Linked DNA regions of Homo sapiens. The protein of the gene in region 1 interacts with the protein of each later gene in a pairwise test. Each region holds a gene or a part of one and is shown on either strand. Other genes may lie near its edges. The genes, in order: TMPRSS2, CMTM7, CNIH3 and FAM3C.

Region 1 (7,929 bases):
AGGCCCAGCAGCCTGCATGTGGGAAGGCCAGGTGGAGACATAGGTGATACCCGCCTGGCTCACTGTGTTTTCTCTTCTTGAAACAGACCTAGTGAAACCAGTGTGTCTGCCCAACCCAGGCATGATGCTGCAGCCAGAACAGCTCTGCTGGATTTCCGGGTGGGGGGCCACCGAGGAGAAAGGTGAGGCTGCTCCTGGGCACACAGGACTGCAGGGCCCACAGATGGAGCATTGGGTTCGGAAGTGGGAGGTCCAGGTTTTAATCCCAGTTCTACTACTCAATGACTGGATGACTTTGGTTGATTCCCCCAGTCCTTGTGCCTCAGTTTCTCCATCTGCTAAGTGGGAGAAATCCTGCCCAGCCTACCTAATACACTGTGTTCTTATCGTGATCACACAGAGCAGCATGTGGAATGGCTTTTGAAGTATCTGGGCCATACGAGTTTAGAGGTGCAGGATCTCCTGTGTTGCACTCATTGTGAGTTTAGAGCTGCCCTGGAGATCCCACCAAGGCCTGCGTGGCTGAGTGACAGGGGGCTTGGTGAGGACGGGCATCCTGGACCCATGGTGGCCACATCTAAGCCTGTCCTCTGCCCTGATAACCACAGAGAGAGGCTCTCTCCACCCACTTCCTTTGCAATCTGCATTTCTCTCTGACAGTCTTTCAAATGAAGGGAGCCTGGCTGCTTCATTTTTATGGAGGGTTGGAAGTGCTTAGTGGCAGGCACAAAGGTTCATTTTACATATTGTTTATATCCTTCTCAAAAGCGTCTAGGCCATACAGACAACAAATCCTTTCAAACAAGGGGAAAAGTACAAAGGTTGGGTGATTTCTGGGGAGCGTCAGGGAAGGTAGTGGGGGGCATCCTGGCTCCTCATCAGCAGAAACTTACTACAGTAGAGCCACAGGCTGGGCAAAAGACCTCATGGAATCCAAGATGAAGGGAATATCGACAAATATTTGTGCGCACCTGCACCTAGTACAGGCTGGGTGCTACTCAGGTGCTGGGAATGCAGAAGTGAACAGAGTAAGACAAATGTCTCTGCTGTCAGGAGCTTTACCTCTCTTCTGGATGTCGGTGGTGGGGACGGGGCAGGTGTGGTCAGACAGATGGGAGACAAACAACTGAGCGAGGTACTTCCAAACATCTGAGGGTGGGGATCACAAGGTCCCGGCTATTTTGAAGGGGTGGTCAGGAAAGGCTTCTCGGAAGAGGTGGCATTTGAGCTGAGACTCAAATGGCAAAAATGTGTACACATCAAAAAGGCTAGTGCATGTATCTTCAGGTGTGGTCAAGGGGCCAAGGAGGTGGGCTGGGGCCAGATTGCATAGGTCCTTGTGGATTATGGTGAAGACACCAGCTTCTCATCTGCTTGAGGTGGGGAGATCGTGAGCCGGGGAGTGCCATGATCTGGCAGCTGCGTGGGGAGTGGGGATGAATGGATGGAGACGAGGATGATGGTGACAAGTCCATTGCTGTGGTTCCTTGAGACAGGAAGCCAGCTCATAGCAGAGTGCGGGCGTGGATGTGAAGAGATGAGGGTACACTAGGGCTAGAGCCACCAGACTTACTGATGGGTTGCATGTCTGTGGGAGAGAGAGTGAGAAGTCAGGGACGATGGCTTTCCACTCTGTGGCTGAAGCCCCAGGGTGGCGGGTGGTGCCATTTTTCAAGCCAGGAAATATTGGTTGGTGAGAATTTGGGGTGGGAGAAGGTGTGACGGAGGGTTCTGGTTTTGCACACTAAGCCCACGGTGCCCAGAAGATGCCCGAGGGGAGGCAGCAAAGCGAGAGTGGGAAATGCAGAGGTGGCAAGTGCAGGCCGTGTCTTGAGAAGCTCTAATGTGCAGGGGAGCCGAGAAGCAGGCGGCCTAGGGAGGGTCACGTGTGCTCCAGAAGAGTGTGTGCATGCCAGAGGGGAAACAGGCGCCTGTGTGTCCTGGGTGGGGTTCAGTGAGGAGTGGGAAATTGGTTCAGCAGAACCAAGCCGTTGGGTGAATAAGAGGGGGATTCCATGGCACTGATAGAGCCCTATAGTTTCAGAGCTGGGAATTTCTTTCCCTGAAGCTGAACTCCAGAGCTGCATTCAGCACAGGCACCGCCAGTTGTAAGGAGAATCCAGGTTTCCCAGGAGAGGGGTTGGTGCTGGGATGAGCTGACCGGGGCAGGGCTGGAAAATAGGGCTGTGACCATCTGTGTAGTGCGTGTGGAGGTCTCAGGGAGGGAAGTGTGCTCTCCCTGCGAGAGCTGCAGGCAACACTGGGAGCTCAACAAGTCTCCCTGTCCTTAGGGAAGACCTCAGAAGTGCTGAACGCTGCCAAGGTGCTTCTCATTGAGACACAGAGATGCAACAGCAGATATGTCTATGACAACCTGATCACACCAGCCATGATCTGTGCCGGCTTCCTGCAGGGGAACGTCGATTCTTGCCAGGTAATTCAACATTTTTATTCTACCTTTGGTCCTTACCAGATCCTACTGAACCCCCCATGAGAGAGAGGGCATTCTTGGGGTCAGCAGAGCCTCCTCAGTGACACGGAGCCAGCTCGGGGCAGTCATGGGAAGTGACGGCCACAAACAGTGCGAACGCTTCTGGTGGCAGAAGGAAGTACAGTCAACAAATCACACACACCCTCTGAAAAACCGGTATTTGGTAAAAGTGCCAGTGGAACAGAAACAAGTATTTAGACTATTTTAAATTATGAACGGCAATTTATTTAGTAACTTTTAGCTTGAACAGATTAAAATTCAGGATGGGGGCTATCTCTTTGGGGGTTACATCTCTGTTACCATCACCCCTTGATGGTGGAGATTCGAAGCCCACACAGTCACTCGTAACTCACACTGCGACCCCCGCCCCCCAACTCCTCTAGGCCTGGTCAGTGGTGTGCGGCAGATTGTGACTTGATTTTCTGCTCTCTGTACCTTGCTGTGTCCCACAGGGTGACAGTGGAGGGCCTCTGGTCACTTCGAAGAACAATATCTGGTGGCTGATAGGGGATACAAGCTGGGGTTCTGGCTGTGCCAAAGCTTACAGACCAGGAGTGTACGGGAATGTGATGGTATTCACGGACTGGATTTATCGACAAATGAGGGTAACTATCCTGTCCTCCTTCTGACTGTGTTCTCCGATTCCTCGAGCCAAAGCCAGACATCTGTTAGGCGTGGTTCTGCTGCTGGAAGCTGACTGGTGACCACTGGTCAGCATGAAGCAAACTCTGCTTCCTCCAGCCACAGCCCCATCCCCCCAGTGTCCACCCATTGCCCATTGCCTCTCACTGGCTTCACTTGCATATTTCCCCTGGTGTTTGGATGAAAAGCGCTGGGGCTCAGCTTGTGTGAAATTCCTTGGTGCTCTGCCAACCACACTTCGTTCTGGCTCAGCTGACTCAGCTGTTCCACCCAGGCCACCTCACATCAAACTTTTTTTTTTTTTTTTTGAGATGGAGTCTCACTGTGTCGCCCAGGCTGGAGTGCAGTGGCACAATCTCGACTCACTGCAACCTTTGCCTCCTGGGTTCAAGTGATTCTCCTGCCTCAGCCTCCCAAGTAGCTGGGACTACAGGCATGCGCCACCACGCCCAGCTACTTTTTGTATTTTTAGTAGAGATGGGGTTTCTCCATGTTGGCCAGGCTGGTCTCGAAGCCCTGACCTCAGGTGATTCACCCACCTCAGCCTCCCACAGTGCTGGGATTACAAGTGTGAACCACGGTGCCCGGCCTCACATGAAACTTTTGATTTATAGAGAGCAGAGGGAAGAGCCGGCTGTGCCCATCCTTTTCTGGGGCCATCGAGTGGCTCCTGGGCAGCCCCCAAGGTTAGGAAGGGCAGGAGCAGCCAGGGTTCTCTGATGCCCCAGACTCAAGCACGAGGGAAGGTCTCAGGGGTTCCATGTGAGCCTCATGGATGTCTCTGCTTAGCAGAGCCCTGGCTTTGGGCATTGTCCAGATAGGGGGTGAGAACCAGATCTTCTCATCTCCAGGACCTCAGACGTATAGTTTTCTCAGATTTCTGTGCTTTCTGGGGCTGGGCTACTAGTGGAAGAAAGCAGTCTATTCTGTCTTCTCCCAAATCTCCCAGATGCCCAGTCTGTTGAAGGAGGAGCAGAACCAGGGGGCCTTTCCCGCTGAGGCCCGACCTGTGTCTCCTTCAAATGACACGCGGGACTCAGGGCCTTCCCATGACCATGGGGCCCAGGGGGCGTCACCTGGCCCAGGGCCCAGTGCTAGAAACAGATGACCCCAGGAGGAGGAGGCAGGGCAGGAGGGAAGCTGGCAGGGCTGGGATGGTCAGCCAGGCTGAGGGGCGGACTCGCACCAGGATGGAGCTAGGAAATGATCCAGGTGTGTTTGGCGGCTGCAGGTGGGTCCGCATGGCTGTGCAGGGAGGGAAGGGCTGCGTGGCAGGAGAGCAGCCGGGGGAGGCCCAGACTCTGCTGAAGAGATGCCTGTTGTGCCGGCCTCCACATCCGCTGCCCGCTCCTTCCGGAGCTCCTGCCCCGCCATGCTCAGCCTGACTCTGACCAACACGTTGGAGAGAAGAATGATCCCTTTGTGCTATTAAGCTTGCTTATTTGGTTTCTAAGTGCTTCATGCGAACCTAGAGGAAAAAATTATTTTCCACCTTTGTTTGTCTTAAGAAAATAACACACTTTTTTTTTTCCTATTTGAACAGGCAGACGGCTAATCCACATGGTCTTCGTCCTTGACGTCGTTTTACAAGAAAACAATGGGGCTGGTTTTGCTTCCCCGTGCATGATTTACTCTTAGAGATGATTCAGAGGTCACTTCATTTTTATTAAACAGTGAACTTGTCTGGCTTTGGCACTCTCTGCCATTCTGTGCAGGCTGCAGTGGCTCCCCTGCCCAGCCTGCTCTCCCTAACCCCTTGTCCGCAAGGGGTGATGGCCGGCTGGTTGTGGGCACTGGCGGTCAAGTGTGGAGGAGAGGGGTGGAGGCTGCCCCATTGAGATCTTCCTGCTGAGTCCTTTCCAGGGGCCAATTTTGGATGAGCATGGAGCTGTCACCTCTCAGCTGCTGGATGACTTGAGATGAAAAAGGAGAGACATGGAAAGGGAGACAGCCAGGTGGCACCTGCAGCGGCTGCCCTCTGGGGCCACTTGGTAGTGTCCCCAGCCTACCTCTCCACAAGGGGATTTTGCTGATGGGTTCTTAGAGCCTTAGCAGCCCTGGATGGTGGCCAGAAATAAAGGGACCAGCCCTTCATGGGTGGTGACGTGGTAGTCACTTGTAAGGGGAACAGAAACATTTTTGTTCTTATGGGGTGAGAATATAGACAGTGCCCTTGGTGCGAGGGAAGCAATTGAAAAGGAACTTGCCCTGAGCACTCCTGGTGCAGGTCTCCACCTGCACATTGGGTGGGGCTCCTGGGAGGGAGACTCAGCCTTCCTCCTCATCCTCCCTGACCCTGCTCCTAGCACCCTGGAGAGTGCACATGCCCCTTGGTCCTGGCAGGGCGCCAAGTCTGGCACCATGTTGGCCTCTTCAGGCCTGCTAGTCACTGGAAATTGAGGTCCATGGGGGAAATCAAGGATGCTCAGTTTAAGGTACACTGTTTCCATGTTATGTTTCTACACATTGCTACCTCAGTGCTCCTGGAAACTTAGCTTTTGATGTCTCCAAGTAGTCCACCTTCATTTAACTCTTTGAAACTGTATCATCTTTGCCAAGTAAGAGTGGTGGCCTATTTCAGCTGCTTTGACAAAATGACTGGCTCCTGACTTAACGTTCTATAAATGAATGTGCTGAAGCAAAGTGCCCATGGTGGCGGCGAAGAAGAGAAAGATGTGTTTTGTTTTGGACTCTCTGTGGTCCCTTCCAATGCTGTGGGTTTCCAACCAGGGGAAGGGTCCCTTTTGCATTGCCAAGTGCCATAACCATGAGCACTACTCTACCATGGTTCTGCCTCCTGGCCAAGCAGGCTGGTTTGCAAGAATGAAATGAATGATTCTACAGCTAGGACTTAACCTTGAAATGGAAAGTCATGCAATCCCATTTGCAGGATCTGTCTGTGCACATGCCTCTGTAGAGAGCAGCATTCCCAGGGACCTTGGAAACAGTTGGCACTGTAAGGTGCTTGCTCCCCAAGACACATCCTAAAAGGTGTTGTAATGGTGAAAACGTCTTCCTTCTTTATTGCCCCTTCTTATTTATGTGAACAACTGTTTGTCTTTTTTTGTATCTTTTTTAAACTGTAAAGTTCAATTGTGAAAATGAATATCATGCAAATAAATTATGCAATTTTTTTTTCAAAGTAACTACTGCATCTTTGAAGTTCTGCCTGGTGAGTAGGACCAGCCTCCATTTCCTTATAAGGGGGTGATGTTGAGGCTGCTGGTCAGAGGACCAAAGGTGAGGCAAGGCCAGACTTGGTGCTCCTGTGGTTGGTGCCCTCAGTTCCTGCAGCCTGTCCTGTTGGAGAGGTCCCTCAAATGACTCCTTCTTATTATTCTATTAGTCTGTTTCCATGCTCCTAATAAAGACATACCCAAGACTGCAATTTACAAAAGAAAGAAGTTTATTGGATTTACAATTCCACATGGCTGGGGAGGCCTCACAATCATGGCAGAAAGCAAGGAAGAGCAAATCACATCTTACATGGATGGCAGCAGGCAGGGAGAGAGTTTGTGCACAGAAACTCCCATTTTTTAAACCATCAGATCTTGTGAGACCCATTCACTATCACAAAAACAGCACAGGAAAGACCCACCCCCATGATTCAATTATCTCCTATCAGGTCCCTCCCACAACACATGGGAATTATGGGAGCTACAAGATGAGATTTGGGTGGGGACACAGAGCCAAACCATATCATTCTGCCCCTGCACCCCCCAAATCTCGTATCTTTACATTTCAAAACCAATCAGGTCTTCCCAACAGTCCCCCAAAATCTTAACTCATTTCAGCATTAAGTCAAAAGTCTACAGTCCAAAGTCTCATCCAACACAAGGCAAGTTGCTTCCACCTATGAGCCTGTGAAATCAAGAGCAAGTTAATTACTTCCTAGATACAACGGGGGTACAGGCATTGGGTGAATACAGCCATTCCAAATGGGAGAAATTGGCCAAAATAAAGGGGCTGCAGGCCCCTTAAAAGTCCAAAATCCAGCAGGGCAGTCAAATCTTAAAGCACCAAAATGACCTCCTTTGACTCCATCTGTCATATCCAGGTCACACTGATGCAAGAGGTGGGTTCCCATGGTCTGGGGCAGCTCCACCTCTGTGACTTCGCAAGGTATAGCTTCCTTCCTGGCTGCATCATGGGCTGGTGTTGAGGGTCTGCAGCTTTTCCAGGCACATGGTGCAAGCTGTTGGTGGATCTACCATTCTGGGGTCTGGAGAATGGTGGCCCTCTTCTCACAGCTCCACTAGGCAGTGCCCCAGTAGGGACTGTGTAGGGGCTCCAACCCCACATTTCCCTTCTGCACTGCCCTAGCAGAGGTTCTCCATAAGGGCCCCACCCTGCAGCAAACTTCTGCCTGGGCATCTATGCGTTTCCATACATCTTCTGAAATCTAGGCAGAAGTTCCCAAATCTCAATCCTTGACTTCTGTGCACTGGCAGGCTCAACATCACATGGAAGCTGCCAAGGCTTAAGGCTTGCAACCTCTGAAGCCACAGCCCAAGCTCTATTTTGGCCCCTTTCAGCCATGGCTGGAGTGGCTAGGATGCAGGGCATCAAGTCTCTAGGCTGCATACAGCACAAGGACCCTGGGCCTGGCCCATGAAACCACTTTTTCTTCCTAGGCCTCTGGGCCTGTTATGGGAGGGGCTTCTGTGAAAACCTCTGACATGCCCTGGAGACACTTTCTCCATTGTCTTGGGGATTAACATTCAGCTCCTCATTACTTATGCAAATTTCTGCAGCTGACTTGAATTTCTACTCAGAAAATGGGATTTTCTTTTCTA
Region 2 (6,751 bases), on another chromosome or scaffold:
ACATGCCATGAGCCTGAGCTTTGCCATTCCTGATTTTTAACAGTATTCAGGCCAGGAAATAATACTCCTGTATCTTTCAGAGGCAAAAATTGATCCATCTGATAGCCATAAATAGAAGTAGATGGAAATATACAAAAATACAGTCCTGTGAGATATATACATACATATATATGTATATACATACAGATGTATATGCTATTTTTTTAAAGATTCATAGATTCCTGTCATCTGATTTCTGATTTAGCTAACTATTTATAGTTCAGTGGCCTGTGGGCCAACACTGATTTGCTTCACTGATGAGCAGACAAGATTTTAAAAATGAGTTTTGAGAAAAGCTCTCTCAAGCCAGATGTGGTAGCTAGCATGCACCTGTAGTCCCAGGCACTCGGCAGGAATGCTTGTGCCCAGGAGTTCGGTCTGGCCTGGGCAACGTACTGAGACCCTGTGTCTTAAAAAAAGAAAAAGAGAAAAAGAAAAGCTCTCTCTGTATGTGACATTCATTGTCTTTCACTTACGTATATTACCAAAATTTTCCAGACTTTGGCCTGGGAGTGGGTTGGCTCCTGGAATTCCACTGAGGGATGGAGTCTCTCCTCTGAAGGTCAGCATGGGGGCAGAAGGTCACTGTAGAGGGTGGCCAAACCTCCCAACACTGATGCTCCACATGGCCCTCCCACAGCCCACCATCACACCTCTCTGCCCCCTCTCTCTGCTGTCTCTGAAGAGAGGGATGGTTGCCCCCTGAAGCTTAACACCTGCCCAGCTACAGTGCAGGGTACTGGAAGAGGCACACAGGAGACCTGTGCCCACTGTGTTTCCGGGCCCACTTGAGGAGATTCCCACTGTGTTTAGTAATTCAGGTTGCACATAACTGTTTAGCCCTGGAATCTCTATAGCTAACATTCATCATATGCTGTCTGTGTGCCTAGGACCAAACCTGGGCTATGAGGAAGTTAGAAGAAATTTTTAAAATATGGTCCCTGCTTATAAGAAAGTGGTCATCTAGCTTAGGAGACAAGACACATGAAACAATTAGTAAACAAGGCGTTGTAGTCTAGAATAGCATTCTGTAGCGATATAATAAACTGTTCAATTATGCAGTGCAGACAGTTGGGGACCGGGATGGTATATAACGTGCTAATTGTGCAGAACAGACAATGAGAGGCCGGGACAGGCTCTAATAGGCTAATTATGTGCTGTAGACAATTGGTACAAAAGGAGCCCAGGAAAAGAAACCCGGGGAAGAAGTGGATGTGGGCTGGTGGGGGCAGCTGTTTATGTAAAGCAGCATCTGGGCTTGAAAAGAAAACCAAACCTTGTTGAAAATCCTACCCTTAGCTGCCCCTGCGCCATTCTCACTGGACACCAGTGGCGGTGTAGTGAAGTGGAGGCCTTTGTGTGGGTCTGAGAACACCTAGGCACCCGGTACTGCAGAGTGCGGACTCTGGAGCCAGGCTCCCTGGGCTCCCATCCCATATCTGGCCCTTGCTGGCTCTGTGGCCTTCGGCAAAACAGATGACCGCCTGTACCTCTGTTTCTTTAGCTGTGAAATGGAGGAGCAGGGTGGGTAATCCTAGCACCCACCCAGCAGAGTTGTGAGGGTTAAAGGAATCAATACACCCACAGGGCCTCACACCCTGGTAGGGATGTAGTAAAGTGGTCAGTAAGTTTTCACCACTGCAGCTGCCGGTGTTGTTCACAAGCAAGGAAAATGGCTGCAGGCTTCAAAGCCCAGAGATTCCAGAAGAAGCTACTGCCTCTTCCTCGACCATTTGATGAGCCTCCCACAGGCACTCTTCGTCTCCCAGCACCCGAATCTCATCTACAAGTGAGGGGGCTGGGCTAGGTCAGCCTTCCTCACACTTGAGCGCTGGATGACCCTGAGAAAGGGAAAGGGTGCTGCCTTGACTTAGTTGAGTCTAATATTGTTTAATATGTACAAACGTAAACCTAGATGTAAAGGCCTCGGCTTCTGGCTCTAATACGGCTATGAAGCCAGAATGGAACAGAAAGTCATTACAAATGAAATGCGAACAACGCCACTACACCACAAATCATGGGAACGTTCAGATTTTTTTAACCCAAATTAAAATTTCATCCTTTTCTTCTCTTTTGGTCCAGGATAATCAAAGTCCATTGGCTTAGCCCCAGCTTGCTTGTAAATGTAAACCCAGACCAGGCACTGAAGCTGCCAAGAGTGAAGACCGAGAGGCCTGGCTGCCAGCCCTGACCTGGCCCAACCTGGAGGACTGGGGCCAGTGGCTGGGCCTCGCGGGGCTTCCTCTCTGCACCTGATCCAGGATGAGGTGGTTGGGTTAGATGACTCTCCAAGCTCCTTTCTGGCCAGAGACATGAAGGGAACAAGCACAGAGATGAGAAGCAGACAGGATTGCCCGAGTAATTAGCCCTATGGCCTGTGAACTTCCTCTCCCCTCTCTCCACTGCAGATCTTTGGTTTCATGGCCACCTTCCTCTGCATGGCAAGCATATGGCTGTCCTATAAGATCTCGTGTGTAACCCAGTCCACAGGTGAGTTCTGGTTATCTGTGCACAGAGGATCTCTCAGGAACAGGGGGATGGCTTGTTCTTGACTTCAGCCATAGGGACAAACCCTGCTGTTGAGAAGGCTGTGTTCCAAGGGGACTTTAGAAGTAGTATTAGAGCACAGGGGCCAGCAAAGGGGAAGATGTGACCCCAGAATCTCCCCTCACATTCCCATCTCCACACATCCAAGGATGCCCTAACATTTCAGCCTCGGGTGGCCAAGCTTTTTTCTCTTTCTTGCTTCCTTTCTTTCTTTTTCTTTACTTTTCTTTTTTTTTTTTTGAGATTGGGTTTTGCCCTGTTGTCCAGGCTGGTGCAGTGGTACGATCAGAGCTCACTGCAGCCTCCGCCTCCCAGGCTCAAGTGATCCTCCAACCTCAGCCTCCTGAGTACCTGGGACTACAGGTGTGCACCACCATGCCTAATTTCAATTTTTTTTTTTTTTTTTTTTTTTTTTTTTTTTTTAGAGTTGGAGTCTCACCATGTTGCCCAGGCTGGTCTCAAACTCCTGGGCTCAAGCAGTCCTCCCACCTCAGCCTCTGAAAGTGCTGGGATTATAGACATGAACCACCGCACCCAGCCAGCTTTTTCTTAAGTTTCCTAATGACAAAAATAAAATGTAGGTTTTTAGAAAATACAGATAAAAAATATGTTTAATAGAAACCGTCTGAACCAGGGACAGTGGTGTGTACCCATAGTACCAGCTACTCAGGTGGCTGAGGCAAGAGGATCACCTGAGCCCAGGAGTTTGAGACCAATCTGAGCAACATAGTCAGACTCCGTCTCTTAAAAAATAAAATAAAATAAGAAAAAGCCATCTGTCATCACACTACCCAGAAGTAGCACTGAGTATCCTTTCGATATTTTCTCTCTGAAAATATATATATCTGTTGCTTTTATTAAAAGGATCAAACTTCATGTGCTGTTTCATAATATGTTTTTTCTCCTACTTAGCCACTGACCAAACATTTTCCCAACATCATTAGGAATTCTTAGCAACTCCGTGGGTTGCAGCATTAAGTCCATCGCATGACTGTGCAGTTTATTTAACTTGCCTCCTCTTTGAGGGCATTACTCATGGAATCCTACACTGAGCCCATGTAGTGTAGGATTCCACTAATAAGAATCGTCTAGAGCAGGCAGATTCATAGAGACACAAGGTAGACCCATGGCGGCCTGGGGCTGCTGGGAGAGGACTCAGGTGTGACTGCTAATGAGGATGAGGCTTCTTTTTGAGGTGATGAAAAGGCTCTAAAATTGTGGTTGCACAGTCCTGTGAATATACTGAAAAACACTTTAGATGGGAGAATTGTATGGTATGTGAATTATTAAAATATCCCAGTAAAGCTGTTTAAGAAAAAAAAGAATGATTTTTAAACGTAGAGAATATAGGGGAAAAGAGAAGTTAATAGGTGGTGTCTAACAGGATAAATCTATAAATATTGGTATAAATTGGTTTTTTGAATTATGGAAGAATCACCAAAAGAAATGGCTAAAAGGCTTGGGAGGTTGCTGCTGAGGAGTAAGACTGAGGTCGGGGGAGTGCGGATGGGAGTCACCTCTGCACTACCGAAGTTTTTTCCTTGTTTGGAAATGTATTTTTAAAAAATGGAATAATCTCAGTGCAAGTCGGCACTGGGTGGAGGACACAGGTGCCCCCCTGAGCAGAACTTGGAGTCAAACCTGTGGAGTGTGGCTTGTGGGTGGGCCACATCCCTGGCAAGCTGTCCTGACTGCCATTTCCTTCCCAAGATGCAGCCGTCTGATGAGGCCACAACCCCTAGGCCCCTCAGGAGCTTTGCAGAGAGGAGGACGTGTACTCCAGGCGAGGCCTCTGGACCTGTGTTCCTGTGCCAAAGTCCTGTCAGGCTGGTGGGCACCAGGAAAGGCCTGCACCCTCTTCCTGCTCTCCCAGGAAGCCAGCTCCCTGAGCTCCTGAGCCAGCCGGAAACTCTTCCTCCAGCCTTCCGGGGAGAACATCCCTCCCATTCTGGGAAAGGAAAGCAGCCTCCAGGGAAATGTTTTCTGCCTTCCTGCTTCTAGAACCACCTCAGGTACTGATGAACCCCACTTAGCACAGCTGAAGGGGTTTGTGAATACTCCCGCCTAAATCCCTTCTACTTCACTCCTCAGGGGAGTGAAGTGCCTTAAGAAACAAAGCCCTGTCCTAATTTATCTAGCTTGTCAGTCCGGTCTTAGAGATACCCTCTTTCCTGAAGTGAGGCGTGCCTGTAGAAACACTATGTGGTCAGCCTGTCCCCAAGGAGATCTTGTGTCTCCTCTCCATCTCTGCCTTTGTTACCAGTGTGCATGTGTTTGTGTGTTTTTTAATAAAATATTGACTCGGCCAGTTGCACAAGGATTTCTTATTGAACCAGATGAAGGCTGTAAAACCTGGCCTGAAACAGTTTCCATTCGAGCTTGTGTCTGGCCCATGGCCCTCCACCCGTGCTCTGTGTGTGCCCCTTGCTGAACTGCTGGACTTCAGGTTTTCTCTCCATCTTGGGGGATAGTATAGCAGGGCAGAGTTTTAGGTAAACATGTGCAGGTTCTCAATTATATTCACGTCCTCCTTCTCCTGCAATACCAATCTTCTCATTTTGGAAAGAGCTTTAGAGCAAGCTAAGGGTTGTGTTTACACTATGATGATTAATGATCTCGGCCTAAATGTGCTGTTTCGCTGATCTTGAGCTGCTCAGTTGGCTAGAAAAAGGAGGGATGGAACAATGTTTGAGCAACCCCGTGTGCAAGGACCTACATTCACAACCACATCTAATAGCGATGGTAGTGACTGCAAGGGGGCAGGTTATAGGACCACATTTTTAGAAATGAAATCGGGGCTCCATCCCCAGGCACAGGGCAAGCCAGTGAGGAGCTGGGCTCAGGATCTAGGTCTGCCTGACTCCCAGCCCCATCCTTGCCTCTGCTGAGTGTTGCCGGAAATGGAAGCAGCCCCTGTGGGCTTTGAGCTGGAGCTCTGGGGCTACTCTTGTGGCTGCTGGCCAGCTCGGGGCATCGGGTTCTGTCTGGGATGATCTAAGGAAGCAGCACCCGTGGTGTATCTGGAGCCGAGTGCTGCTGATGGGAGGGGATCCTGTGTACCAGCTGGGCTGGAGCGGGAACATGGCTGAGCTGACCCTGGCACAGTCGGCTCCTCCAGGGCAATGGAATGGAGGAGTCTCAGCTGAGGAGGGCACGGTCCAGGTGAGGCATTGGGTCTGGGAGCCCCCTGCCTGTGTAGTGACAATGCAGGCCTCGCCAAGCAACGAGGATCCGGGTTTGACCATTTGAGCATCCCCCTAGGAGGGCAAAGGTGGGTGGAGGACAGTTGGAGGAATAGTAGCAGGAGCCAGAGTCTGCTCAGTGAGGAAGGAAAGCAAAACGCAGAGCCAAGTGAGGCCTCCACAGACAGCGAGCAGTGGACCATGCAGCCAGTGGCTTGGCTGAGGGGTGGCTGTTTGAGACCACAGGGCCTTTTTAGAAACTGGGGTTTCTGTGACCTCCCAAAAACTGTCTGGTAAAACCATCCCTTCTAAATGGCCACATCTCCAGCACCAGGGAGTAAATGTTTAAGCAAAGAGCTAAGGATGGTGGAAAGACAGTCAGGCTGGGAGCCGCAGACGTGGGGTTGAGCCCAGCTCTGCCATTGACTAGCCCCCGACTTGGCACGGGTCATCTTGCTGAACCTTAGTTCCCCCTTTGTATAACGGAGAGAATAAGCCCATCCTGGCCTGTCTGTGACCTCCTTGGAATTCAGTAACAGAGCAGCGTGCTTACTTATCGTTATCTTTCTAATCTTAATCCCCAGAGAGGTACCAGAATGACAGGAAATGAGCAGGTTAATGTTGCAAAAGTGATCGAATCACCTGGGTGCAAGGGAGCTGGAGAACATAATTTACTTTCAGTTTCCTGGACCTTAAATTTTGTTAAAGTCAAGATTGGAAGCTGAGGGCAGTTTTCAGCCGGGCGCTGGGACCCATGGTGGACAGAGGGCATGATGAAACACCTGTAGGGAACTGGGTGGGTGAACGCATCCCCAGCAGCCGGCTCTGAGCTGAGTCGTGGGGGTCCTCCCTGCCAGAGGCCCACTAACCTCGTCTAACCTGGTGAAGGGGACACTGGCTTTTCACTTTTGAAGTATGACAATGACCTTCAGATCCTCTGCTTCTCCAGTTCTTTTAGCCCCAGTGGCGCCCCAGCCACTCAG
Region 3 (8,458 bases), on another chromosome or scaffold:
TTTCTGAAGTTTTGCAGTAACCTTTGCCGAGATATTGTTCTGTAACTAATAAAACAAGGCAAAGCAGGACCAGGTAAATGGCAAGAAAAACAGTGGCTGGATGGAGACTTGAAAGTCACAGTGGTAGGATAATGGATTCCATTTTTAAATTTGAAATTTTATTTTGATGTAGAGACTCTTGGTTCTGGTGATGCTGTGCTAGTGAATTCAGACCGGTTCTCCCACTGAGCACAACTTATAAAGCTGAATGAAATACAGTAACATCTTCTTGAAAGCATCAAAGACCTAATAAGAGAGTACGGAATTACTGGGGTCAAAAGCTGAGAGTGATTCAGAATCTAGAGGGGTTGGTTTAGCTCTTGGGGCCAGTTTTTTTTTCTAGGGGCATTTCTTAATCTTGAGGAGGTGGCTGAGGTATGCTTTTAGGGGCATTTCTTAATCTTGAGGAGGAGACTGAGCTATGCCTTTAGTACTCTGTGGCGCTAGGGGCAAAAGTCAGAGTCCAAGGACCATCAAGGGTTGGGACTTGATAAGCCCTGTGTTTTGACTTGGGATCCAGAAGGACAGCTCCATGTGAGTAAGGCTGAACCAGAAATAAAGCAGCCCTCACACAGACCACAGTTATCTTGGTCATCCTGGAAAATCTCAAATGCTGAATTTGGATTAAGGTAATCCTGGAGCACTAGGTTCCCCTAGATACCTGGCAAAAGAAGTTGAAAATCCTCCCTGGAGAAAGATAACATAATTTTAGGCCTCAAATGACTGTAAGAAAACTTTTCAAAACAAGTTTGGCACAGTAAAAATCTACTAGATGGATAAGAAGCGAGGACTCCGTAAACAAGAACCAGCAGAAACAAAAGATCAGAGAGGTCCCAAAGGGACTCAGAATTTTGGTGTCACGAAATTTTATACAGTACAATTACTACAATGAAAAGAAATGATCTATATAAAATAAAAAGCAAAAAAACAGCTAGAAAGAAATACACCAGGATTGTGTTGGTGGTATCTGAGAGCAGCAAACTGTGGTGTTTATCTTTTTCATTTTTATATTTTCCAAATTATTTTATATTTTTGAGACAGGCTCTCGCTTTGTCACCCGAGGTGGGGTGCAGTGGCATGATCACAGCTCACTGTGCCTTGACCTCTTGGGCTCAAGCAATCCTCTGGCCTCAGCCTCCTGAGTAGCTGAGACTACAGGTGTGCACCACCATGCCTGGCTAATTTTATTTTCATTTTTGTAGAGACCGGGTCTTAATTATGTTGCCCAAGATGATCGCGAACTCCTGACCTCAAGTGATCCACCCGCCTCAGCCTCCCAAAGTGCTGAGATTACAGGCATGAGCCACAGTGCCTGACCTCCAAATTTTCTTTAATGACAATTTATACTGGAAGAAATACTTCTGTAAAAGAGAAAGCAACATAGGGTATAACCCAGAGCAGGGCTAGATTTGTAGGCATTCAACTTCTACAGCTGTCCAGGGTCTTGTGCTCAGAAGGGCCTCATGCTTGGCTTAATGTTCTGCTGTTGCTGTCTTGAAATTATTAATTTTTAATCAAGAAGCTTGATATAGTTTGGGTTATTTGTCCCTGCCCAAATCTCATGTTGAAATGTCATCCCCAGTGTTGGAGGTGGGGCCTGGTGGGAGGTGTCTGGGTCATGGGGGTGGATCCCTCATGGCTTGGTGCTGTCCTCGCAATAAAGAGAGTGTTCTCACAAGATCTGGTTATTTACACGTGTGTGGCACTTCTCCACAACACTCTCTTGCTCTTGCTTTTGCCATGTGACATGCCTGCTCCTGCTTCACCTTCTACCATGAATAAAAGCAACCCTGAGGCCTCCCCCGAAGCCGAGCAAATGCTGGTGCCGTGCTTGTACAGCCTGCAGAACGGTGAGCCAATTGAACCTGTTTTCTTTATAAAGTACCCAGCCTCAGGTTTTTGTTTTTTTTTTTTGAGACAGGGTCTGGCTCTATTGCCTAGGCTGGAGTGCAGTGGTATGAACACAGCTCACTGCACCCTTGACCTCCTGGGCTCAAGCAACACTCTCACCTTAGCCCTGCAAGAAGCTGGGACTACAGGTGCATGCCACCACACCCGGCTAATTTTTGTATTTTTTGTAGAGATGGGGTTTCTGCCATGTTGTCCAGGCTGGTCTCAAATACCTAAGCTCAGGTGATCTGCCCACCTCGACCTCCCCAAGTACTGGGATTACAGGCATAAACCACCATGCCTGGCCAGGTATTTCTTTATAGCAATGCAAGAACGGCCTAATACAAAGTCCCACATTTTCATTTTGCACTTGGCCCTCCAAAGTATGTAGCCGGTCCTGACCCAGAGGCAATAAAATGTAGATCGGTTCATTGCTCTGGTCATCAGCCTCTGGATTTGCTCTAATTTCTCCACTTCTCACTGAAAGGCATCTAGTTTCTAAACTGGAGGGAGATATGAGGCCAGGCACTGTGGTGCACACCTATAATCCCAGCGCTTTGGGAGGCCAAGGCTGGAAGACTGCTTGAGGCCAGGAGTTTGGGACCAGCCTGGCCATATATTGAGACCTATGTCTGCAAACAAAACAAAACAAAAATTATCTGGGTGTGGTGGTGCATGCCTGTAGTCCTAGCAAGGAGTTTGAGGCTACAGTGAGCTATGATAGCACCACTGCACTCCAGCCTGGGCAACACAGCAAGACTGTCTTCAAAAAAATAAAATAAAATAAATTGAAGGGCCTGGAGCGGTGGCTCACGCCTGTAATCCCAGCACTTTGGGAGGCCGAGGTGGGTAGATCACGAGGTCAAGAGATCGAGACCATCTTGGCCAACATGGTGAAACCCCGTCTTTACTAAAAATACAAAGATTAGCTGGGCGTGGTGGTGCGTGCCTGTAGTCCCAGCTACTCGGGAGGCTAAGGCAGGAGAATCGCTTGAACCAGGGAGGTGGAGGTTGCAGAGATCACGCCACTGCACTCCAGCCTGGCGACAAAGTGAGACTCCGTCAAATAAATAAATAAATAAATAAATAAATAAATAAATAAATAAGTAAAAGATGTGGCCAAATAGCTGCAGGAATGTTGGGGCATAGTAGAAAGAGCCCAGGATTAGGAGTCCGCAGACAGGATTCCAGTTCTGTCACTAGAAAGCTGTATCTCTATCTTGCTGGAATTCATCCCTTCCAGCTCTCAAGGCATTGGAATCACATCTGTGAACAGGAAAACTAGCACACCAGAGTCAGAATCAAGCAATAGTTATTTATCTAGTTCCCACCCTGTGCAAGGTACCAGGTGCTCTAAGATTCACTCCAATCCATGAAGTGCGTCTACTCTTTCACCGAGATTTGCCAGTCGTCTTTCAGGGTATTTTTCCTTGCTTTCTGGATTTGATGACTTGTCTGAAACTGAAGTTCTCTCTGGAATGACTGGACCTCTTTCACTGCAGCGTCAGGAATCTCTTGCAAAGCAAGCATGGTGAACTTCCAAGATGCTGGGCCACTGGGGGAAAGGGTGCAATTAATAATCCCTACCACTTATTGAACGTATACCAAGTGCTAGGTTTTTTACTTATGTTCCCTTTTAATCCTTTGAAATGGCTTGACTCTACTCTTATTTATGTTTTTCTGATAAGGAAACTAAGGATTAAAGAGGTTAGGTAACTTGCAGCTAGAAAACGGTCTACCTTCAAAAGCATCCTCTTGACAATTCCACTAGGACCAACACCAATACCACCGAGCCCTCGTTGCTGCCTCTTCAGCGCAGAATAGCCCACCAAGTCCACGTTTCCCTAGTCCCAAGGTCGGATGGCTGGGGAGGGTAGAGGATGCAACGGAAGGACGTTAATGGAGAATTTTGCAGGGTCTGGGAGCAGAGCAGTAAACGCAGCCCTAAGCACTGAGTATGCTACAGTTTGGTAAAATCCATCCAAGCAGCTTTGGGATCCAAGGCTTGCACTGTATCCCCAACCAACACTAGGCAACGCCCCAAGTCCCCACACTTCCCACTCCGATAGGCGAAACTGCAAGAACCGGGAGGGGCGGCTGCGGCGTTTAGGCGCGAGGCACACACCATACCCTTCCGCAGCTTCCCACCTCCTCCAGACGCACGTGTTTAAAGAGTCCCTGCTCCAACCGGTCCCGCCCCACCTCCGCTCGGCCTCCAGCCCTGCTTGTACTGCTGGCTTCAAGTTTCCTCCGAGAGGCGGGCGTGCACAGCTGCAGTGGCGGCGGCAGCGGCCACCAAGCGCCCGGCGGCGCTTCGCCACCCACCTTTCCTCAGCCCCCGGCGCTGCAGTCTCCGCCCGCCGGGGAGGGCGCGCTCAGCGGAACAGGAGTCGAGGGTGGGGCGCCGAGAGGAGGGAATCCCGGGTCGCACCGCTACAGTTCTCGCAGTGGCAAAGGCGGCGGCGGCGGCGGCGGCAGCGGCAGCAGCAGGTGGAGCGAGCTACAGCGTTTGGCCTGAAACCCACTGCTGCAGCCACCCGGGCTGGAGTTGGCCCGTTGGGTGGAGCCAGTGCTCGCCCCGGTCCGACCCCCGGTTTCCGGGACACTTGGGTTGCGGAGGCCGGCTGGCCGGAGTCACGGTTGGGGACGGGCGCGCCTCGGAGCGCACGGCTGCGCTGGAAGCCGCGTCTGGGGCGCAGGACCAACGGGACCTACCTCCTCCCGGCTACCTAAAGACTCCTTCTCTCGGGAAAGAGCGCTGCCCGGCTCTGGGATTTGGGAGGAGCTCGGAGGCCGCTCGGGCACCTCGCTGGACACTATCCGTTTGCGCCCCGGTGGCGCGGGAGGGTCCGGAGCGGAGCGCTCGTCTCTCCTCAGCGGTTTAGTGGAGAAAAGCAGAGAGCTCTTCCTGGGGCGAATGGGACCTCCTCCCTCGGTCCTCCGTGGAGTCGTCGCATCGCTTGTCGTGTTGGTCTCGAGGGGCTCACAGCTTGGCACTAATTTGCAGGTGTTCGCTGCTGATTTGGTTTCTTCTTCGATTTGCGGACGGTTCCCTCCAGCGACTCTCGACACACGTTTTCCTGTCTTCGCCGGAGGGCCGGGTCTGGGGTCGCCGGAGCCTGCGGGAATCCAGCGCTTATTCGCTGACCCTCGAGTCGCTTCGCTAGCTGTGCGCCCTCCTGGGCACTAGCCTGGAGAGGAGCGTGCAGACGCGGCTCCTTGGAGGGAGTGCGGTCCTCTAGGGAGGCATCGGGCTCCTAGGGGCTTCTTGGCGTGTGTGGTGGGATTGGGGTCCGCCGGCCATGGCCTTCACTTTCGCTGCGTTCTGCTACATGCTGTCTCTGGTGCTGTGCGCTGCGCTCATCTTCTTCGCCATCTGGCACGTGAGTAACACGCTTTGGTCTCTCTTCTTTCGCCCCAATTTCGCTAAATTTCCCCGATTTCACCCCACTTTTTCCACCTTGCGGGCGTGGGCGAACCGGAAGGTTGGACCTTCTGCCGCTCCACTGTCCCGGGGCAGGAGGCAGTTCGCTGCATCCCGCCGGGCGCGCCTTCGGTGCCCTGGCTGGAGGCGAGGGGCCGCTGGTGCCCAGGTAGGACACCCTCTGCAGGGCCCGACTGGGCGTCCCGGGTCCCGGGCGCCGGGGAGTGGCGGCTACAACCACAACTAACCCCTTCCTCTCCCGCCCCGTCCTCTCCTGCCGGCGGGAGGCGAAGGAGAAGCGCCGCCGTCGGTCCCGGCAATTAGTCAAGTAGCTATAATAACTAAACATTTAAAATGTCAGCATCTGTGGTGGGTTGCATTTAGATATAATTGGAGACAAAGTGGAAACACGACGGGAGCGCCTTGTAAGAGGTAGGGAGAAGCCGAGCCCACGGAGAGGAAGGAGACCAGGCGATGGGGGTCGAAGTGGAAGGCGGTGGGGGAAAGGCGAGAAGGAGAAGAGCAAGGAGGCGAGGGAGACTGGGAAGGGCAGGCATCATTAAGGCCATGGAGGAAAGTCACGAAGAGAGACCGTGGAGAGCGACGACGGTGTCCTCCATCTGCCCTCTTGGCGTCTGAAGTCCGACTCCTGAAGACCCCCTGCAGGTGGCGAACCTCCGCTAGGCCCCCAGCGTCCCCAGCCCACACAAGCTTCCTGTCACCCTTCCCGGGGCTACGCCAGGTGGAGGGCAGCCGTGGATCCCAGTTCTTTAGGTGTGGGTGGGAATAGAGGAGCGCAAGCTTCTGAATAGGGGAAGAGAAGTACTGAGAGAGCGCGCAGGAGTGCGTACGCCGGTCCTCTCAAAGACTGTGCAACATTTAGCGAGTGCATGCAACTCTCAAGGCTTCCTTCTCTGAGGTTGTTTAAGCCCCCTATCCTCACCCTCAGAGGGCTGGTGGGAAGAATGGCCAAGGCCAAATGTTTAGAAGGAGCACCCCAGTGCATAATTTCCCACCTTTAACAGCCTTGCCCTGCCCAGCGTCTAGGTGACAGAGAAGGACCCTGAGACGAATTCTTGGAGGCATGGTTCTGGTGAGCATCACAGACTCTCATACAGTGGGGATGACCCAAAATGAAGACGTGGAGAAAATTGCAGGGTGGGTGAGATGCCCTTGTTTTCTATAAGTGGTTTGCAGAGTGAGAGTTTGTCTTAAAATAGAACTAAGCAGCTAGAGCAGCTCCTGCTACAGGGCTCTGACAGAGAGGAGAGGGGAAACTCGGGGAGGAAGGTGGCTTCCGATCATGTAACCTTAGGAAAGACCCTTGCTGGCTTCCTTCCACATCTCTAAAGTGAGAAAATTGACCTGGATAGTCGCTAAGCTTTCCCCCATTTCTCAGATTGTGTAAATCCGTGCATCAGTAGACTTAGGAATCTGGGGGTGACAGGGAATCCAAACATAGATATTTGGGGGATGATTAAAACAATTCCGCTATTTAGAAGTAATGGGATTTTAAACCCTCCCTTCTCTGCTCTGCAAGGCTGGGTCTAATCTATAGTAGAAAATTGAGGCTTGAAGTTGTTGACAGTTCTTAAGGGAAAAGGAAACTTACCTGATTTAGAATAGAAAGGAATACAGATTAGATCATGCCCAAGCAGTGCAGCAAACCTCTGCTAATGTGCTTTAAAGGAACTTTCTCAGCTTCTTTGGATATGGGGAGTTACTTGGATTCTAGAAGGCCAACTACTCCCTTTTCTTCTGCAATACTTCATTTGCTGTTTTCTGTTTTTGCCTTGGCCAGAGGGTGTCAGGTACCAGAGAGCTCCCTCAAACTCGAGTCTGGCTTGGAGTTCTCTGAATTGGTCCCTGAAGCAGAGCAAGTAACCAGAAAGAATCATTTTCTCTCATTCAGGGAAAGATGATTAATAATTCAAGAACAGCTTCATTGAGTGGTTTGTGCAGCTGGTTGACATTTGAATGAAAATCAGGTGTTCCCTCATCCAGCACTGGCTCTATCCTCCAGCTTCTCAATGCTCACCCCCTTATCGAGGGGTGGCTGAAATGCAGTCAAATTCCAACTCAGGTTTTATCCAGATTCCTCGTGGAAGTGGCAAGATTCTTGTTTCTAATAATGAAAAGAATTTGTGCGTTTTGATTTCAAATTACGGTAATAATTTCATAGTCTCAGTCCCTCCTTTCCTAGTCTTTTCCTTCTCTATCCCTTTCCCTCTCTCCAAATCAAACAACCCAAACCCCATCACACTGATTTGGTTCCTGAACATTGAACTGGGAAACCAGAGACACCCTGATTTCAGGGCACGGTTTGTATGTCTGGGTGTTAGTTACATGGTAGTAATTATTTCAACCAAAATTGAGGAGACTTGGTTTTATGTTAGACTGTTTGCCTTCTTTCCAGCTTCTTATATTACTTATGTACTTCTTGATCGGACAAGGCATATTGATTGTGTGATATATATCAGTACCCCAAAAAATGAATTGGGCGCTTAACAACATATAGCGGTTAAAATGCCTGCCATGCTGCCATGCCTAGGCTGTAAGATATGAAGATGGCGTGCTTTTCTTATTGAATTGTACGTACCTACTTAGGGGTAATGATGGTAGCTACTATGTATTGGGTGTCTGCTGTAGGACAAGTTTTAAGTACTTTACAGAGGATCTCTCAGTCCAATCGTTTTCCTCCCCTTTTTTCCCACTGGATGTCTGGGAGCAAGGATGGATGTGGCCAGCCTTTCTTTCAAGTCTTGTTTTTTACTTTGAAAATTTATCTGCATTTGTTTTCAGTTGAAAATATTTCAAGTTACCCATTTATTTTATATCAGCTACTATCTCTGAGTACATTTATCACATTTGGAAGAAGCAGAAGAAAACTAGGTTTTTTCTGTGGCTTTGCATACCCTCAGGCACCTGGCCTCTTACTGCCCAGGCAGCCCTTTAGTCCTCATAACGGACATTTCGCAGATGAGGAAACTGGATCAGAGAGATTACAAGGTTGCCTAAGGTTGCACAGCTGATATGTATTGGAGCTGGTATGCATGGACTTGAGCTAGGTCTGTGAGACTCTTAAGCCTAAGCCCTTTCTCTAAC
Region 4 (8,773 bases), on another chromosome or scaffold:
TCAAATGACACTTAGATGTGGTATTTTAACCTGTATAGGTATAAAATTTGACACGTTTACTTTCAGTTTTATTATTTTACCTCTCTTTTTCTCTCTCTTCTGCTATATTCTTTAGAAGCTAGGCAAGTTTCTGGCCATCTTGCCACAGGTTTGAGTTTATAATCCAATATAAACATGCTTGAATATTTTAAAGTAATCCTACCCCCAGAGTTGGTCAACTCTTTTCCCCCTACAAATGTTTTCTTCCCTGATTCAGTTATTTATTGCTGTGTAACAAACTACCACAATACTTAGTAAATTTTTTTAAGTATGTTATTTCTCAAGTTTCTGTGGGTTTGTTGGTCTAAGCTGGGCAGTTATGCTCCATGTGGTACTGTCTGGAGTTACTCATGTGATATACTCAGGTAGGAGCTTAGCTGGAGCTAGAACATGCAACACGACTTTACTCATATAGCTGGTGCCTTGGGGAAGTGGTTGGGATGGTGTGGATGGAGAGAGAGAGCTAGGCCTCTCTCTGCATGTAGTTTCTCATTATTCAGTAGTTGTCTGAGTTTCCTATATGGTGACTAGATCCTGAAGCTAGTGAAAATGGAAGCTGCAAGGTCTCTTAGGGTCTAAGCCCATAAGTCACATAAGATCTCCTCCATGCATTCTATGGGTCAGAATAAGTCCCGGGGCCAGCCTAGGTTCAAGAGAAGAGGACATAGATTGACCTCTTGATGGTAAAAAACAAAGTGGCATGAACTTACAGGAATGGGGGAATTGTTGGTAGCCATATTTGCCTATAATTTACTACTCCATATACAGAAAAATGATACCAAGTGGACTCTTCTTCTTGAGGGTGGGTGCAATTAAAATTCTGAGGCTTTTTGGAAATTTTGTATTTAACAATATTATCTAATTCTTATATATACATTTTTTATATATTCTTATATAGTTACAGTAATATAAAGCAGGTTATAGTTTTATATAAAATATGGCACCTATTGAGAGAATGAACATTCCTTTCTTTTAATCATGATTTGTGGTTTTGTTTTTAAGCCTTATGATCACATATAATTTTAAAATTTGTGTATATCTCCTCTACTTTAATCATTTTAAGTTGGCAAAAGCACCATTCCCAATCACAAATACACAGCAGTTCTACGATTTTCTGTTTCTGAATGGCTTTTTTTTTTTTTTTTTTGAGACAGAGTCTCACTCTGTGGCCCAGGCTGGAGTGCAGTGGTGCGATCTCAGCTCACTGCAAGCTCTGCCTCCCGGGTTCACGTCATTCTCCTGCCTCAGCCTCCCCAGTAGCTGGGACTACAGGTGCCCGCCACTACGCCCGGCTAATTTTTTGTATTTTTAGTAGAGACGAGTTTCACCGTGTTAGCCAGGATGGTCTCAATCTCCTGACCTCATGATCTACCACGCCCAGCCTCTGAATGGCTGTTTAAAGACAATCCTAAATTATAACTTAGTTTGACTTAGATTGTAAATAATTCAAGAGTGAAGTTTAACTTGCTACTATTTTAAAAGCATATTATCTTACAGATCATCTATAAAATGTGAGAAGTGTTAAATAATCTTTATTTGATATTACACATACACCACACTAAAATGCCTTTCAATAAGTAAAAGGAACTATTTTAAATACAGGGAATTCTAATTAGATTGACATAGTTAAGGCCAAAAATATAAAGTAGACATTGCTACCTTATCTTCAACCCTTGCCTTTAAGAGGCAAATGAACACAAAACACAGGTGAATCTTGCTTGGTTCTGAGATAGTGAAGGAATTTCTCCAGTATTTAAATATATTCACATAACCAGTTATATAAATCCAAATATAAAACCAATCTCCAATATGTTTTAAGATGGCATTCACCATCTTTGTGAAAAGCTGAACATTACTAACAAAGTCTAATCAAATCATGTCTTTAGAAAGGGTAAACAGTGATAGCATTTACTGAATTGGATTACTATTAAAATTCAAAAAAACTGAACATATTCATTTAACTGCAAGCCAGTCTTAGTTTTACATCAGGACTGCCCAACAAAATATTCTGTCAGTTATTCATGATCTGAATTCTGGTGTGTGAGGTCTATTAAATTATGGTACACATAAAAAAGTCATAAGACATTTCTGTTTTGTAATAAATAAGGCAGTGGCCAATTATTATTCATTAGTAGCTTTTTTGAGATAAGCTATCAAGTCTGCTCTTTCTGCCTTCTTCTTAATGCTGGCAAAGATCACTTTGTTCCAGAGATGTGCTTCTTGGGATTCTCCAAATACTCCATCAGTGTATCCTCTCCCCAGGTGATGCCTTTGTTCTTAATGGCATCTGTGTAAAATAATCCAACGGCTTGACCTGTCTTCCATCCGAAGAGACCATGGAGATTAGGCCCAGTCCTGTGCTTGCCTGCCTTTTCCACAGTGTGGCACTGGGCACACTTCTGAATACAAATCTTCTTGCCTTTCTCAACATCATCCATATTTAATCCTCTCTTTTGTTGCTTGTGCTATGAAGGATGACACTCAGAAGCTGGATGTCACACTCTCTGTATATTCTTTTCGAGTCAACAAAAAAGTTGGGCTTTGAAGTTGAGCACGTGAGTTTGAATCTTAGCTCTGTCTGGTCATAGCAGAAGGACCTTGAGCAAGTTTCACTTTTCTCCGCTGTATTTATAGGATTATTGTGAGAATTAAATAAGTCTATATATATAAAGTGCTTAGAAAAGTGCCTGGTGCACAATAAGCACACAATAAATATCAGCTTTAGAAATATACATTATCAGTAGCTATTATTATATAATATAAATTATCGGTAGTTATTGTAATAGCCAACACCTTTGGCTTATACCTCCTGGAGCTGTAAAGCTCTGTGGTTTTATTAAGCTTAATCATTAATCCTGAATACTTCTCCTGGCTCCCCTACCTCCTGCCAAGTAAAAGTAGGAAGTTATCCTTACTCGTTTATAGGTGTAAGAACTGGCTGATTAACAGGAGTCCTAAAGAAGTGATTTACCAATGTTAAAAAAATTGAAACCCATATTAAGAAATATAATTTCTACTGTATCCAGGACATAGACACACAGACACTCACCCACACATGATGCTGTACAAATGTTTCATGAAGAATACTTATCCTGAATTTATGCTTTGAACTGTTTTTTTTTTCTATTTTTCAGTGAATCAACAGCAACAAAATGTTGGTTGTGACCCATTGTTATTAATTTCATTACCTACCAAAGGGTTCTAAGCTATATCTTATGGTCAGTGGAGAATAGGCTACTAACACATTAAACTTTATGCACAGGAATTGTTTCAGGTGTGGTGCTATAAGAATATGTCACATGTAATTTCCAATCTGGTTGGCTCGGTTACAGAGCAGATTGCTCTTTCAGAAATACACCGTGACCTCCCTACTCAAGAGGCTTCATAAACTCTTTCAGTGAGACATAGCAGTCTAGGAGAGGCATGTGTACAGTAAGTGTTATGATTTTTTGGTACTATAATAAGCAAAGTGCCTTTTTGTTTATTTGGAGCTACATGAAGCTAGGCCGGAATTCCAGCTTCATAACTTACTATCTTGTATTTTTGAGCAAGATATTTAAACTCAGTTTTGGAGTCTTAGTTTTTTGATTTAAGTAATACACAAATAGCATAATATTGGCACATGGAAGACAATGAGAATTCATTTCATGCTTTCTCCCCTGATCACGGATCACAAACTCCAGAATTCATAGTTACTATTAGTTTGTGTGTTTTATATTTTTGGAGGAAAGCTAAAATTTGGTAGATTATTAATTCTATATTAACACACTATAGTCAAACCCTATTTTTAAATGCAATTTAATTTCTGCAACCACTGATGATCCCAATATTCTGTCAAATACTAGGTAACAGTTATTCATTATTTTAGAATATGGATCTGAATTATGAAATAATTTTGCATTCTAAGGTCTTATGTAGTAAGATTTGGATTAACTTCCCAATTATCAACACAATTGTAGGAAATCTCCTGAGAAAAAATATTTCTAACGATTGTGTATCTTATAATTTAAAAAATAAACGTGACTTGGAAAATGCAAGGACTACTGTTCTTCTTGGGTGGTGCATTAAAGGTGATCAGAATTCTAATGACGCTGGACAGTAGGATTTTCAGAATCAGTTTCCTAGGGTTCAAGAAGTCAAACGGCAAATAACCCAAGGTCCTTGGTTGATCTGACCATCTCAGCTATCTCAAGATATATAAGATGACCTAACTGGCGCATCTCTAGGATGGGTGGGTCATTTAAAATGTTCTGCCCTTGAGGCTGGGATTTTGTGCGTGTAAACGGTGGGGAGACGGCGGTGACACATTTTTCTCCCTCCCGTAGTGCCACCCGGCGCAGGGCCGCTGCGGCGGCGGCAGCTCCCACGTGGCAAGTTCAGATTGTGCAGCGCCTGGCCGGGGGCGGTGGGCGGGACCGCAGACCCCTCCCTCCGCTCTCCGGCCCTTCCCTCTGGCCGGCCCGGGCGCCCGCTTGGTCCTCCACCGCCAGGGGGCGGGCGCGGCTTCCCGGCGGCGGGGGCCCATTGGTCGCGGCCGGGAAGCGTGGGAGGAGGCCCAGCGGCGAGCTGGCTTTCTCCTGGCCACTTGCCGGGGTGAGGGGCAGCCGGAGGAGTCCGAGAGGAAGCGGAGGCGCGAGCTGGAGGCGGCGGCTCCCGTCGGCCTCCGGCAGGACTGAGCGCTGGGAGGCCGGAAGGCGGGCGCGCGCGGCGGAGAGGCGGGCGGGAGGCCGGTGAGACGGCTGGGAGGCGGACGGAGCCGGGGCTCAGGTTCGGGGAGGGATGGAGGAGGCCGGGGAAGCCAGACGCCCACCTACGACTTCAGCCTCCGCGCACTGCGGTCACCGGCCGGGGGCGGGCCCCGGGCCCGGCCGCGTTGTCACGGCGTGTCCGGACGTTGGAGAGGGCGCAGGCGGGACTGGGGTCCCGGAGAGCCGCTGGCCGGGGTTCCCGGCCGCCGCCCCGGCGTGGGCATCCCCGGGCTCCGCGGAGACGGGGCGGCGTCTGCACCTGGCGCTGGCACTCGGCGCCCCGGCCTGGGGCGGGCACCTGGGTCGCATCTTCCCCAGGTTGGCTGTGGCTCGCGCCCCTGCAGCGTGTAGGCTGAGAGCTCCGAGAGGTGGGGACGGAGTTGGGTGTTGCATTCCAACTCCATAGGGGGCCGTTTTGACTCACTTGTAAAGTTTTAGTGTCGCCTATACTAGAGGTACTTTTGGTTTTTTACAAGCTATCCAGCCCTTTGATGTTTGGTGTCTCTTCTTTTTCTTCCTATTTGTTTGCTACTGCTCTCACAGCTCGGGACCACGGATGATGATTAGTGGCCCTAGATCTGAATATGTGAGTGACGGATTGGCAATTTGAGATTGAGAGCTCCAGCTGTTTTACTTGTGGGAGGAGCGGTTTCCATCATCCTCTACCTTTTTTTTTTTTAAGAAAAAATATTATTGCCTGTAATATAGAACTGCTATCTAATTGATAGGACTTTTCCTTTGTTTCTTTTTGGCCAACATGGTGAAACCTCGTCTCTACTAAAAAATAAAAAAATTAGCCAGGTGTATGTATCCATATATATATATGTATGTATGTATCCATATATATGTATGTATCCATATATATGTATGTATCCATATATATGTATGTATCCATATATATGTATGTATGTATCCATATATATGTATGTATCCGTATATATGTATGTATCCATGTATCCATATATATGTATGTATCCATATATATATGGATACAATGACATAAATAATATTAGATTGCTTACTGTGTACTAGGCACTGCCAAATGGTTTCGTGTGCTCATTTATTCTCACAACAGCTCAGTGAATAAGTCCCTTTATCTTTTCTAGTTTTACAGATGGAAATATGAACTCCCGAGAGTAAAGGTCAATGCTGATAGCAGAGGCCCCGACCCCTTGGACTTGTGGCCAATTTGCAGTTACGTTTTCTTAAGTCTTGGGAACCGTTACTATTAGTCATACAGTATCTTACAGAGTACCAGCAGATCTCTATTGAATTTAGAAAATAAAAGTTAATCACTTACTGAAAGCCATTTAACAAGAAATTGGCAGAATCAGCAAATCAGCATCCGGTTTTGGTCACTTCATCGACCTGTACCTCTTTCTAGAGGCTACTAGTAGTCTCTTGTGTTTCTTGGCTGTTTACCAATAAAGTCACAAGGTTTTCAGTTTTATACAGGTATTAGAAGCTTTGTTTCACAGATTCTTGTAATGTTTTCTCAACTCAATAAAGACTAGCATTTCTTCATAGGAAGAAATAAGAAGAGTTGGAGCCAATAAAAGGAGTTCAGTCCAGCAGTTCTCAACCTGAGGACCTCTCTGAATTACCAATGGGAACTTTGTAAGAGGGACACAGGACAGGTTCCTCAAAATCCTCATTGTAAGGGGCTTCTGTTTCAAAAGGGAGTAAAAATAAGACACTACTGGCTTAAAGTGACTTTAAAAATAAACTTAATGGATGTTTTATTACAATTACAGATTTTTAATGTGGATTGCTGCCTTAAGCATTGTCAACTAATCTTTCATAATTTATGAAGATACATTAAAAAGGAAAAGGAAATTGGAAAAGACAGCCAAAAGGCTAAGAGGCTATGGAATGGCAAAAAGTAATGTTCCCTGAGGGGGTATCAGAAGACTCATATATTTTCCACCATATATTTTAGGTTTTGAACGATTCATTTTTCAAAAATTTTTATACTCTTAAAAATACTGGAGTGCCTACCATGTACCAGTAATTGTAGATATCATGGATACTATGAATAAGACAGCCTGGGCACTCACAAAGCTACTTTATTTTCTCTAAAGCAGGGAATCTTTTTTATTTTTATTTTTATGCCCATTTCTTAAAGCTGAAAGGTGCAAGACCCAAATAGCAAAAGATTTTTATGTTAGCGCTGAGCTAGATAGATTTTTGTGCGACCTTGGTATAATAGCAAAAGTTTGTCTTGAATTTAGTCCAGAAGCGTCTCTGTTCTTGGGATCAGATGATCAGGATTTGAAGCATTGATTCTGTATTTAGTTATTTCAAGAGTGGCATTGACTAAATTACTTAATATCATGCAGTCCTTTTTAATCTGATTGAGTAGACTGAACCAGGTAATTTCCCAAAATCTTTGAACTTTTAAAAGGTTTTGTACTTTCTTTTAATGCAATTCTTTGAGACACAATCGGCTGACTTCCTCTCAGAGGAGGAAATTAAGTGTTGTAATACCCCTAAGTCTTTCCAGTGTACCCATTAATATTCTTTTTCTTCTTCATTGGCCTGCTCCATTTGATTGAAGCTATTCTTATATTTCCCTTATTTTTAATCTAATTTTGAAAATCCGCTATTCATGATTTTTCTAACTTCAGTGAGTTTTTTCTTCCAATTTTCTTTTTTAAATTAAATTCCTGTAACAGAATTTTTCATTTTATTTTTAAATTATTTACAAAGACAGGGTACCCCACTGTTCTGCAGACTGGAGTGCAGTGGTGTGATCATAACTCACTGTAGCCTTGAACTCCACCTTAGCCTGTGGAGTAGCTAGGTTTACAGGCATGTGCCACCACACACGACTAATTTTATAATTTTTTTTCTTAAAAGACGGGATCTTACTATTTTGCACAGGCTGGCCAAATCTGCCCTCAGGTGATCCTTCGACCTCAGCCTCCCAAAGCTCTGGGATTACAGACATGAGCCCCTATGCCTAGCCAGATTTTCCATTTTAAAGTGTGGCATTTAGCACGTTCATGATGTTATGAACCGTCACGTTTCTAAAACATTTTCATCACCCCAAAAGGAAACCCCATATTCATTAAGCAGTTGTTCATTCCCTTCTCCCTGCCAATCCTCGGCAACCACTGATCTGCTTTCTGCCCCCATAAATTTATCTATTCTGGATTTTCCTAAAAATTGAATAATTCAATATGTGTTCTTTTGTGTCTGGCTTCTTTCACTTAGCATGTTTTAGAGGTTCGTCCTCTAAATCAGCAGGTATCAGTACTTCATTCCTTTTTAAGGGTGAGTAATATTCCATTCTATATTCCATTCATATACACCACATTACATATATATCATTTCGTTGATACGTACTGCATTTTGTTTATTCATTTGTTAAATTTTTGTGTGCTATTCAGAAAGTTATATGAACATCTCTAAATTGATTTTCGTCATAATCTCTACAAGGCTTGCTAAGGTAGTGTTATGGTGTCAGGTGTGCTACCTAACATATCATTCATTACTTGCAGTTAAGTGATTGTTAAATGAGTTTTGAAAGACGCAAGGTCAACAAAAATGGATTTTTAAGTTGGTTCAGTTGATACGTGGTGTGGTTTGGTTCTGCGTCCCCACTCAAATCTCATCTCAAATTGTAATCCCTGTGTGTCGAGGGAGGGAAGTGATTGCATCATGAGGGCGGCTTCCCCCATGTTGTTCTCGTGACAGTGAGTTCTTACAAGATCTGATGGTTTTACAAATGGAAGTTTTTCCTGCACTCTCTCTCTTCTCTCTCCTGCTGCCTTGTGAAAAAGGTGTCTGTTTCCCCTTAGCCTTCCTCCATGATTGTAAGTTTCCTGACACCTCCCCAGCCATGTGGGACTGTGAGTCAGTTAAACTTCTTTCCTTTATAGGTTACCCAGTCTTGGGTATTTCTTTATAACAGTGCAAAAACGGACTAATACAATACGTTTTCACAAAATTTTACAATAGAAGCATCTTTAGAGTTTATTTGA

The links.
Region 2: the proteins of TMPRSS2 (region 1) and CMTM7 interact in binary tests that used the Homo sapiens proteins (3 or more experiments, as listed by UniProt).
Region 3: the proteins of TMPRSS2 (region 1) and CNIH3 interact in binary tests that used the Homo sapiens proteins (3 or more experiments, as listed by UniProt).
Region 4: the proteins of TMPRSS2 (region 1) and FAM3C interact in binary tests that used the Homo sapiens proteins (3 or more experiments, as listed by UniProt).

The regions. Positions count from the first base shown.
Region 1 is NC_000021.9:41,462,901-41,470,829, reverse strand, and holds the end of TMPRSS2 (transmembrane protease serine 2), read left to right. Parts: intron 1-86; coding exon 87-182; intron 183-2,291; coding exon 2,292-2,434; intron 2,435-2,943; coding exon 2,944-3,096; intron 3,097-4,676; coding exon 4,677-4,688; coding exon of another isoform or gene 4,689-4,710; 3' UTR 4,711-6,525; downstream 6,526-7,929. UniProt on the Homo sapiens protein: Plasma membrane-anchored serine protease that cleaves at arginine residues. Participates in proteolytic cascades of relevance for the normal physiologic function of the prostate.
Region 2 is NC_000003.12:32,449,945-32,456,695, forward strand, and holds the end of CMTM7 (CKLF-like MARVEL transmembrane domain-containing protein 7), read left to right. Parts: intron 1-2,447; coding exon 2,448-2,529; intron 2,530-4,296; coding exon 4,297-4,310; 3' UTR 4,311-5,584; downstream 5,585-6,751.
Region 3 is NC_000001.11:224,611,944-224,620,401, forward strand, and holds the start of CNIH3 (protein cornichon homolog 3), read left to right. Parts: upstream 1-4,373; 5' UTR 4,374-5,231; coding exon 5,232-5,312; intron 5,313-8,458. UniProt on the Homo sapiens protein: Regulates the trafficking and gating properties of AMPA-selective glutamate receptors (AMPARs).
Region 4 is NC_000007.14:121,392,158-121,400,930, reverse strand, and holds the start of FAM3C (protein FAM3C precursor), read left to right. Parts: upstream 1-4,622; 5' UTR 4,623-4,769; exon of another isoform or gene 4,770-4,806; intron 4,807-4,909; exon of another isoform or gene 4,910-5,242; intron 5,243-5,459; exon of another isoform or gene 5,460-5,981; intron 5,982-8,003; exon of another isoform or gene 8,004-8,063; intron 8,064-8,773. UniProt on the Homo sapiens protein: May be involved in retinal laminar formation. Promotes epithelial to mesenchymal transition.